2 separate regions of the Homo sapiens genome follow, and region 1 is linked to region 2. The links come from fine-mapping of genetic effects on gene expression. A gene starts in region 2. The other region holds a variant in brackets. All regions are shown on one strand. Distances are between the middles of the regions. Region 1 overlaps FNIP2 (folliculin interacting protein 2). Region 2 holds the start of FNIP2 (folliculin interacting protein 2).

Evidence for each region. PIP is the estimated chance that this variant, and not a neighbour inherited with it, causes the effect.
Region 1: its variant is fine-mapped to the expression of FNIP2 in T cells (TOPMed, PIP 0.94).

Annotation. Positions count from the first base shown.
Region 1 is chr4:158,823,835-158,829,216 of GRCh38, forward strand. It overlaps FNIP2 (folliculin interacting protein 2), which reads left to right. Exons shown (of 17, transcript NM_020840.3): 2 at 2,082-2,208; 3 at 5,245-5,382. Among named protein-coding and RNA genes, the nearest start is that of FNIP2, 58 kb to the left of the region's middle. The variant C/T (reference allele first, on the strand shown) is at 3,230.
Region 2 is chr4:158,765,905-158,771,286 of GRCh38, forward strand. FNIP2 (folliculin interacting protein 2) reads left to right here and starts at 3,122. Exons shown (of 17, transcript NM_020840.3): 1 at 3,122-3,415. The coding sequence starts at 3,309. RefSeq lists a silencer at 2,863-3,072 and an enhancer at 3,030-3,767.

The DNA.
Region 1 (5,382 bases), 58 kb after region 2:
TGGCCATGTCTCATTAGCCAGACCTGAAACATGGACTCCCTCTGGACTGAGAGTAGAGGGAAGATGGTTTGAAAATAAACTTGGCTTATTATTATCAAGATTAGGAGGAAAGGATGCTGGGCGTGATAACTTAGGGCACAGCTTGTTGAAAGAAGGTACAACCAGAACTTTATATGTTTTGCCGTAGGGATTTAAGAAAACAAATCTGCTACCCAAAAAGAACATGTTCAGTATTAACTGCCTGAAAAAGGAAAAGACCAAAAATGCACAATTTGTGATTGAGTACCAGACACTGTATTAATTTTCTTTAAAAATCATAACATTACCAATCCTCTGAGGCAATTATTGCCATTTTGGAGCACTTACTGTGTGTCACACTTTGTGTGAGGCACTTTACGCTTTGTAGGACAGCTTTGTGAGGGCAGCCTTAATATTCTCATTGTACTGATGAAGAACTAGGAGGCCAGAGGCATTTGGGTTTGAATCCAGATGTGTCTTATTTCATTTATATCATCTCCTAGTTTTACAGTTTGCTTTTGTTAGTCTGTCTGTGTGTCCATCTATCCTCCTCTGTCCTGTCAGAGCTCCCCCTCAGCTTCTCTAAGCAAGGCCCCCTTTCACCTCGGGCACCTCTCCAGTCCATTGGGAAACCGGCTCAACTCTGTCCTCTGAGCATGCCACCAGTGTCTGTCCCCTTTCCCCCACCTCTGCTGCTGGAGCTCTAGCCTTCATTATGAAGGGCCAGAACTCTTATTATGAATTCTGTTTGGCCTTCCTGCTTCCAGTCTTCATCTCTTCCACCCCCATTTTCCTTAACAGCCAGATTGAACTTTCAAAAAGTGCAGACCTGATCTTATCAAGCGTCTGTTTTCCTTGGCTTCTCATGGAGGGAGAACATGATCCTGGCCCCTGCCTGCCGTCCTTTCCACCTCACGGCACTCACTCTCTGGCCTTTTTTCTTCTTCCTTCTCCAGTGCAGCAGTCTTACACCTTACCACCTCCTTCTCTGTTCCTATGGTGCGCATCATTTGTTTTGCTTCTTCAGGTCTGTGTTTACATGTCACTTCAAGTCCTTAGGGACTTCTCTGTCCCTTTCCCCTACCCCTTCAATCTGGAAATCTGAAGCTGTTTACTGCTCCTTTTTGTACTTTTCACAGTTTGTAGTGATACATTCGTCTGTGATTATTTGCCTAACATTCCCCACTGAATCATGAACTCCATAAGGGTGGGGACCAGGTCTGTCTGGTTAATTAATTGCTGAGTCTCTAGCAGCAACCACAGTGCCTGGAACATCACAGACACTCAAATATGTGTTGACTGGACTGATGGGTTAAAAACTGAGTATATCCAAAGCAGTGCACTTTTAAATGATTATCTTTTCTGTAGTTCCCTCACTCTGTAATTTATTAAGAATGAACCTATGTTTTCCTCAGAGCAGTTTTATCCCAGTTGCTTTTGGTTTGCTTAGAAACATGCTTCCTTTCTTGCTGACTGTAATTGCTAGCAATTCCAGTGCTCTACAGTGATGCACTTGGTTTCTGAAACTCCTGGATTAGAGCTAGCCATAATCGGGGAAGATAATAAATTTTAGGGTATGTAATTCCTCTTAATTTGACCTGAGTGTGGGTGAGGGAAAGAAGAGAAGGCTCTACCGACTTGCTCCAAATGGTTCCCTGCCCAATAACACAGAAGCCTTAACACTCCTTTAACTCGGATATGCTGTCCCCAGAACCCAGGCATCCAAATTTAGTCTTCTCTGCATGTCCTTGTGATTTCTGACTGCCATCTGTGTCCAAATTGGCTTTGGAAGGAGAAGCTTTCTCTCCAGTGATTTATTATTTAAAGCAGTCTTCTCAGCCCTTATCATGAAAACTGGCAATTTTCATATGGCCCTTTGGAATCCACATACAAGGCTATCTGTCCCAGGCTCACTGGTGCCCCAGTTCTGAGGGGATCACTAGCCCTGCATGCTTGTGGCCTTTTGATGTGCACACAGGCATGGTGACTGGGAAGCTTATCTGTCTGTGATCATCTCATGTGCTGCAGATAACATAACTTCTTTTGCCCTTTTTAATCCACAGTTGGTCATGTTCGGAGTTTGACCTGAATGAGATTCGCCTGATAGTTTACCAGGACTGTGACAGGAGAGGCAGACAAGTCTTGTTTGACTCTAAAGCTGTTCAAAAGATTGAGGAGGTGACAGCTCAGGTATGAAATGCTGATTTGCTTTCTCCTTTTCTTTTGTGCTTTTAACCACCCTTCTGATCAATCATTTATTAATCTATCATCTTCTCTTTGAGTTATATTATACAGTGCCATTAATGGTTCAGAAGAAACATAAGCAAGCATTGAATCCTTTAATCAAAGCCCTACCCCCAACAGGCATGAGTATGCTCACTGCTAAACACAAGTGAAACTGTTAGCAAGTAATCATGGCAGGAGCTAAGCAGTGTACTATTAATAGTACTAGAGGTAAATTTGCTGGTGAGTTGCAATCCAGTAAGATTTTGATGCCAAGTGAGTGCCTCAAATGTAATGGGAAAGCAGAACTCTAAAATTCATAAAGTGATAAAGTGTTAGTGTGAAGATCATTCTGTCCAGTGTTTCTCATGGATAATAATAAGTAGCACTGGGTTAAACAAAATTAAACAGCTTTGCTTATTTACAGGACTTCCATATGCAAACCTGCATTGTTATCTTCAAAAAGGATTGTTTCTCAAACCCTTCTGACCAGGGGAGCTTTTATTTATTTCCCATTTTTTTTGTGGAGAGTTGGGTGGTAGTGGTGGTGGTGGTGGTGGTGTAGGGTGGGCGACAAGCAATGGGTAGAGTGAGGATAGAGCAGCTCTTGATCCCTTGGAACCAGAATGGGAATGGTAAAGTAACATGTTTAAGGTGAGGAGAGTCTGATCCTTTCTGGGTCTTTTTTGGATATGATACCAGGGTACTTGTAAATTCACTTTAGACCTTTCATTCTCTTTTCAGTATTTGTTCAGATGCCTACAAATTAAATAAATCCACTTGTATTCATTCTTTTTATGTTCAATAAGTTGCTACCCATACTGACCAAATACTGGCAGTTTGTAGAATGTGCAGCTAAGTAAATGAACAGTTTATAACGCAGTCTTTGTCTCATCAGGGCCAAGGGGTTGTTTTCCTGCTTTTGATAAGGATCATTTCTGCAGGAAGGAAGTGTTTGGTTAAACACAGTTTAGCTGGGTGGATTCCA[C/T]AGTGTTTTAAAGTGGAGTTCTGCCAGGTGGCTAATCATTACAGTAGTTGTTGGGCTTGTTAGGTAGGTGAAGGGAGGGAGGGGGAAACCAAGAAATCTCTCAGGTGATTCACTGTAGGCTTTCCAGGTTAGATTTGTAACAGAAATTTAGGTGAGCCAGCACTTGACCCTTTGGTGGACAGGAGATGGTTTACCTCTTAGTTTCTTGAATTATTTCCCATTTCTCTGAAGGCCTCACATGGATGGTCTAGTTGAGCAGCTATCACTGGGGCTGCTCATAGTGGTGGCAGGTGGAGGGGAAAAGAAACACAAGTTTTCAAAAGGAACTGGAATCTTCAGTGTACCAGAGCACTGATAATGCTGGAATCTGGAAACATAGGCTTTCTTAGAAGCATTCATCTAACCAAAAAGGCATCTTAGGTTCAGGAGGTTTGTAGCTTGCCCAAGGCTACAAAAGAATCCAGTCAGTGCTCTATTCACTACACCAGGTGGTTTCTCCAATTATAGACTGTTCAGCATTGTACTCCAGCCAAAGGGTCTAGCAGTCTGAAGCAGTGGCACCTCGTGTCACTTAGGCCCTCTGAGGGGCTGTGTTTCTGGCTTAAGTGAGATTGAGTAACAGCTTTATCTTTAGCGTGTTGAGGGAGTGCTGGGTGCTCAGGAATAATCAAGTGCCACTTTGAATGCCATCATTGCTGGAGTGACAGTTGTGGTCCAGCACATTTTGTGTTTTCCTTACGTTCTTTTCCCATTTTCAGTCCCCACCGCCCCAGCCTCCCTTGGCAAGCACAAAACGTCATGAGTTTGTATCAAGCACATGACTGCAGGCATTTGCATTAGACCACCAGTGTGACTGTCACATTGGAGATTAGATAAGCTGCAATTGCATTCATGTTTTTTTCCAAGCAAAAGCTACACAAGGAAAAAAAAAAGGCAAAGAAGACTCAGAATAGAAATAACTTATCATAGAGGGTGCAGGAAGCTTCTGTAGGGAGTAATATGTTTGGGGAGAGGTAAATATTAATAAAGGTTTATCCTTATACGTTTGTCACTGTGATAAAAATTAGTGGCAAACTCTAGGGAATGTATAGTAGAGCATCCTCTGTTGTCTTTAACCTTTGAAGACCATATTTCCATCACATGCTATGTAATTCACAGTAGCTCCTGTTTCAGGGTTTTGGTTTCATCCCTTACAAATTCAACCTCATGATTTTCCTTCCTGTTACCTTTAAAGGAGTAGTAGAGGAGGTGTGTCATTAAAAACACAAGTAGGCCGGGCGCGGTGGCTCACGCCTGTAATCCAGCACTTTGAGAGGCTGAGGTGGGCAGATCACGAGGTCAAGAGATCAAGACCATCTTGGTCAACATGGTGAAACCCCATCTCCACTAAAAATACAAAAAAATTAGCTGGGCGTGATGGTGGGCACCTGTAAGTCCCAGCTACTTGGAGGCTGAGACAGGAGAATTGCTTGAACCCGGGAGGCACGGGTTGCAGTGAGCCGAGATCATGCCGCTGCACTACAGCCTGGCAACAGGGTGAGACTCCATCTCACAAACAAACAAACAAACAAAAAACCCTACGAGCCAGTCTGCCCAAATTAATAGTTTTGTTTTATTAGTTCCATTTGCTTAGTAAAAATTTAGATTTGAAGCCTCATCTTTCTCCTCATCAATGTAATGGATTATGACTCTACATAATACTAAAAAGCTAATAATCAAAACTCAAATAACCAAAACAGAGGTCAATTATGTGAATTGAAGTGTAAATAATAGTTAAATTATTAAAAGAGGATAAAGTCTTAATACATAACCTACCTCCTTTTGTCTAGAACCCTTCTTCAGCATTCTGCCATCCCAAACCATGTTTTTGTCATTATTGGGGAAAAAAAAAAGCTTCTGTTTTTTAATGCAACCTAGGCACCAGAATGCTTTTAAAAAGGAATTCCCAATGAAGAACTGTTGACGAACCTGATATACTTAGTAATCTTTTACCTTGCCTGTCTCTCTTAACCTAGAAAACAGAGGATGTTCCTATTAAAATATCAGCCAAGTGCTGCCAGGGAAGCAGCAGTGTCAGCAGCAGTAGCAGCAGCAGCATCTCTTCCCACAGTTCTTCTGGGGGATCTTCACATCATGCTAAGGAACAGCTTCCA
Region 2 (5,382 bases):
GATAAGTAGTCAGTTACGTTCAAAGAACACTGTCCATTTAGGGTAAATAATCCTTCAAATGCAGGAAAATATAGAATAAAAAACGGGTTTGCTGTACTGAAATTAAAAATTTTTTAAAGAATTATTTTTCACTATTCCTTTAGTCTTAGCTCTGTAAATAATTTGCAAAATCACTTAACAGTATGAAAAAACAGAACAGGACCATTGGTGACAAGTATTTTCTCTGGCATATTGAGAGATAAACAGATTGGCATTATGTGTCTCACATAACAAGCAATAAAGAGGACAGAAAACACGAACCTGCCTCAGCCTCTTATAGACTGGTCTATAAGAAAATAGAAATATTATCTCACCTAATGGAGAGTGTCAGGTTAGGGCAGAGGGATTGTGGCTCAATAATGCCATCAAGGACCCAGCTCGCTTCTATGTCTCTTTGCCATCTCCAGTCCTGGTTTCATCTTTAGGCTTGTAGCAAGATGGCATTAGACCTAGACATATAACATCCAAAGGAAGAAAAAAACCCACCTATCTCTCTCTCTCTCTCTTTCTATTAAGAGTGAGGAAACTTTTTCCAGAATTACTCCTTTTCCTCCAGCTCCTTTCTCTCTTGCCTCCTGTTAGGAATAAGGGTAACAGGTATTACATAGGCTACAAACGGTATCAATGACAGTCTAATTGCAGAAGCAGAACTAAAACAACTTACATAATATCCACTAATTGAGAACTGTCACCAGGACTCAGAATGGACCGGACTAAGTAAGTCAGCCCTTTACAACTTCCCCTTTCCCATTTTAGTGTTGTTCTGTCATCTCCAAGCATTCAGGATATTGTCTTATTCCCTGCTCCTCTTGACAGCTGCGTACAAGAACAGCCAGCTGGTATATTTTCCAAGATAGGGTGAGTGGGAAGAGGTGAATAAAGGAGATGTATGGAACTGGGCGATGGGCCACGTGACCAGTGTTGGAGACTGAGATTATGACAAGCCTCAGGGACCAGGCAATGACCAATGGATGATGGGCAAAAGATTGGATTTTTGTAGCGGCCTTGAGTAGCCAATAAAATAAAATAAAAATAAAAAACAAGAAGACTGGGAGAGCTGGCTAGAGCTGTCTCCCAGAACTTTTTTGGCTAGGATTTTTGTATACTTTAAAAATCCAAAGGAGGAGGTGTGGCCAGAACCAGGATGAGGAAGAATGTGATGCTGAGAGGAAGCACAGGGAGAAAGAGGGGAGAAGGGAAGCATTTTGGTTCCTTTTGTCTCCTTTAACTGAAGTCCTGGCTTTAATAGTTTAAAATACACACTCTTCCTTTATAGTTGCCTAGTCAAAACCAAAATTGAAGATGATGGCTAGAGCAGGTTATGATTTTTTAATTGCCTCTTTTGGATGATCTTGTCTATTTGGACTGGGTTGGAACTGAAAGAGTCCTAGGAAGTGAGGAATGAGGCACAATATGTCAAATTCCTCTTCTATATGCAGTTACAAAAGCTGCTAGGCTCATGAGGAACATGCAGATTTTAGTCTGGAGAATAAAGGACATTTTCTGACCAAGGATGGAGTAAGGAAAGGTGGTGAGTTGCTGGCCACAGTATGACCTGGGACTGTATCTGAAAGTCACAACGTATAAAGCCAATACCTTCTATATAGCATCCTGACCAACACTGGCAGCCCTATGAGGTAAAGGCCTTCAGCAAACAGAAATAGCAAAGTTGCAAATTAGGGTTCTGTGTACACTCAATTGTGCAAAAGGATGATTGCTCATCAGGATAAACACTTAATCCACCATTTTAACAGTAAAAGTCCGAAGGAAACAAATGACTAAGTTTCCATTTCTACCACCTTTCTCTTACCTTTGTGAAATTTCAGCACATTATTCACAGCTAGTTCCCAACCAAGTCCAGAAACTAACACAATTAAAAAAAGAAAATGCAAAGTAAAATAGGCCCAGAATAGGTTCTTTTGATTACTTATGTTTTTGGAAATATATTTTCCTTTTTGAGTCTCCAAGAGTCCTCCTCTCAACAAGTGTAAGAGAGCCCAGGTGAGTCACTGTTCACTACTCATGGAGAAGCTAGAAGAGGCATGGTTGGGGTCTTACTAACTTTATCTCTATTTCCCATCATCGGAAAAATTCGTGAAGCCCAACGCTCTAAAACATAGATTAAGAAGTTGCTTTGAGTCTGGTAACGTGTCCTACACTGGCTGTTTAGAGCCCTGCACCACCAAGGATTAAATTCCAAAGGGGACTGGGGTGGGACAGGGCAGGAAAGCGGACTCAAACACATGAACTCCTCCCTTCCTCAAACCAAATATCTGCTGCTGATATGCCTTGATTGACTGTTAAATATGTATTAGGAAAAACAATCCCTTGCTATAAAATATCTTAAGTTTCTAAATCTATGTAGTGAGTTCTGTGTGTGTGTGTGTGTGTGTGTGTGTGTGTGTGTGTGTATGTTTTAAAGGGGGGACTTAATATTTCAAATGCAACTTCTTATATAACCATGGTATGGTGGCCCAAGACGCCAAACAGAACAAATGATTTGGATAAACAGTTTAAATTTTGTGAAAGCCTGGAGGAATCGAATTTGGACATGGAGGAAACCTGACAAAACCTTGGGTGCTATGTGATTCAAATCACAGCCCACCGAAGCGGCCACCGCGCGTACCAAGCCTTCCCCCCTAGCATACGCCTTCTGTGAACGGGCTCTTGTACCTGAACAAAGCGAGGACCCAAGTTCAGGGGCTTTGTCTCTAAAGAACAAAGATCGGCCTAGCTGCATGCTCGCTGTGCGAAAGAACCCAGGCTCCGTGGGAACCCCACGCCACTCGCGGAGCTGCGCCCCGGCGGCCGCCCTCGCCCCTCGGGCCCCTTTAAGTGCCGCGCCTGCCCCCGTCCGCGTCCCCCGCGTGCCCGGAGTACTGGGCCGCCCGCCCGCTCCTGGCCGCACCTCCCACCTCCCGCCTCCCGCCGGGGTTACGTGAGCCCGGGGCGGGCGGCCGCCGGGCCAATGGCCGCCGCCGGGGCCGCCGCGCTCCTCCCGCGCCGCCGCCGCCGCCGTGGGGCTGCGGGCTCCTCCCGCAGGAGATAACTGTCAGCGCGCGAGGCGGTGGCGGGCCGGCTCAGTCATATGACCGGCAGCCGGCGGCTCCGGCGCCGAGCAGAGTTACTCAGTCGCAGCGGCCCCGCGCTCCCGCAAGGCTGGGCGGCCGCGCCGCCGCGATGGCCCCGCCACCGCGGCCGCCGCCCCCGGCTGCGCGCTGAGCCGCCGGCCCCCCGAGCGCCACGGCCGGAGCTGCGGCGGCGGCATCATGGCCCCGACCCTGCTCCAGAAGCTCTTCAACAAAAGGGGCAGCAGCGGCAGCTCCGCGGCGGCGTCTGCCCAGGGCAGGGCTCCTAAGGAAGGACCCGCCTTTAGGTGAGGGGGCGCCGGGGGGCAATTCTGGCGCGGGACCCGAGTTGGCTTCGGTGCTCGCCGGGGAGGGGACGGGTAGGGGAAAGGGAAGGGACTGTCCAGGACGGCGCTGCCTATCGCCGGCACCTGGTCCCGGGCTTGTCAGCGTGGACGCGCCTGATCCGAGTGTGGCTCCGGACCCTCCGTGACCCTTCCTCCCGCTCTTTCTCCACAACTCAGGGTCCTTCCCCATTTCAGAGTTCTCTTGTGTTCCTTGGGGTTCCCGGGCGTGCGCTGTGCTTGGCTGTGGCGACCGGAGATTCTCCGGTTATTGGGGTGAACCCCTTCCGGGCAGAGCCGCCTGGGCACCTCTGCGGGCCCAGCAAAGCTGTGAGCTGTCATTTTGAGGGCAGCTCCAACCTATTGTGTACGTGACAGTGTTTTGAAGTTCTGAAGGAGCAACAGTCACGAAAAAGGCATCTTTCTTCTTTCTTGCCATATATGACAAGCTCTCAAACGGATGAATGAAAGTATGTAATTTCCACATCATGTGGAAGGTTGATGCCGCATGATGTGTGGAAAGGGGGAGTAAGATGCAATTATGAAATTTCCGAGATTTCAATTGATCAAAGCTGATATGTATATTTAATAGATTTGATCTCTCGAACACATACCTTTGAATATTGATAGCATTTATGGAGAGCTTACTACCTAAAATGCTTTATGTTGATTTCTGTCGTTTACTTTTCTGACAATGCGGTGAGGTGGGTGCTATTATAATTCCCATTTTACAGGTGAGGAAACTTAAAGTCACAGATAACTTAGGCGGCTTGCCCAAAATCCAGCTGTCAGTGGTAGAGCCTGTGTTTTGACCCAAGCAGTTTGACCACAGATTCCAGTCTTTAAAATCCCTATGCTATTCTGATTTCAAGGGCTAACTTTTAAAAGACGCCTTAAAATGTCCTATATTGCCTTTGAGCACAGGTATGTTGAGAAGTTTATTTAACAATTTTTCAACACATTTTAAAATTGAGCACCAACTCCCAATTCTGACACTATGCTAGGTGCTTTTTGGCCAAAATGTCTTGCAAAAACAGTTCACTGTTAAACAGATCTAGACCCAGTATAATAAACCTTTAAAAGTTTCAAGTGAAACTTTGAAATAAATTCTGGATTAAGTTTTATGTTCTAGATTTTGCTTTTCTTGAATTCCATCATTTAAAACAGTCTCTCACTGTGGTCATGTGAAAATTAAACGTGTGTGTGTGTGTGCACGCGCGCTCATGGAAGGCATATTGTGAGGACCTTAAACTCCCCAAGTTAAATTCTCATGTTTTCTTTAGGCTAACAAGCCTTATAATTTGAGTGGGAATTCTATGCCTTTTGTTAGGCTGAGTATTAGTGATGCCATGTACCTTCTCAGAATGGTAGAATTACTTCGGACCTAAGGTGTGTAATTTCGTCCCTTCCCTCCCTGTAACCCAGACTCCATCAGGGGTACAAAGCCTGGAGCGGAAGGAGCATGTTACAGGTGTCTGTACTTTGACAGCTCTTGCCAAGGACATTTAAAGCCATTTGAATGCAGGAGGAGATAGTGGCGGTTACTTGTCATTGTTTTCTGTGCTCCTTGCCTAATTGCCTACCACCATTTCCGCTATCCACAAGTTTAACTGAGTGTATTTGAACAAAAAAAATATGGCTATATTTAGGGTTTTGGGCCATATTAGGGAAATTGATTCCCACTTCATGGGAACATTTTCAGTAGTGTTCTGACTTCTCATTTGTGTATAATGAAGAACAGAAAATCGTGCCAAGTACGGTCTTTTTTTTGACCTCATTGGGATTTTCTACAAGAATTTGAGATCGATGTTTTTGGAGAATTTGGGGATCCCAGTTGAACATCCTACTTGATGAGGGCCCCCTTCAATAGTGTCCCTGATAGAGGTCACCATGGAAAAGAAAGTAAAGTAGCAGATGTGAGCAAGGATGCT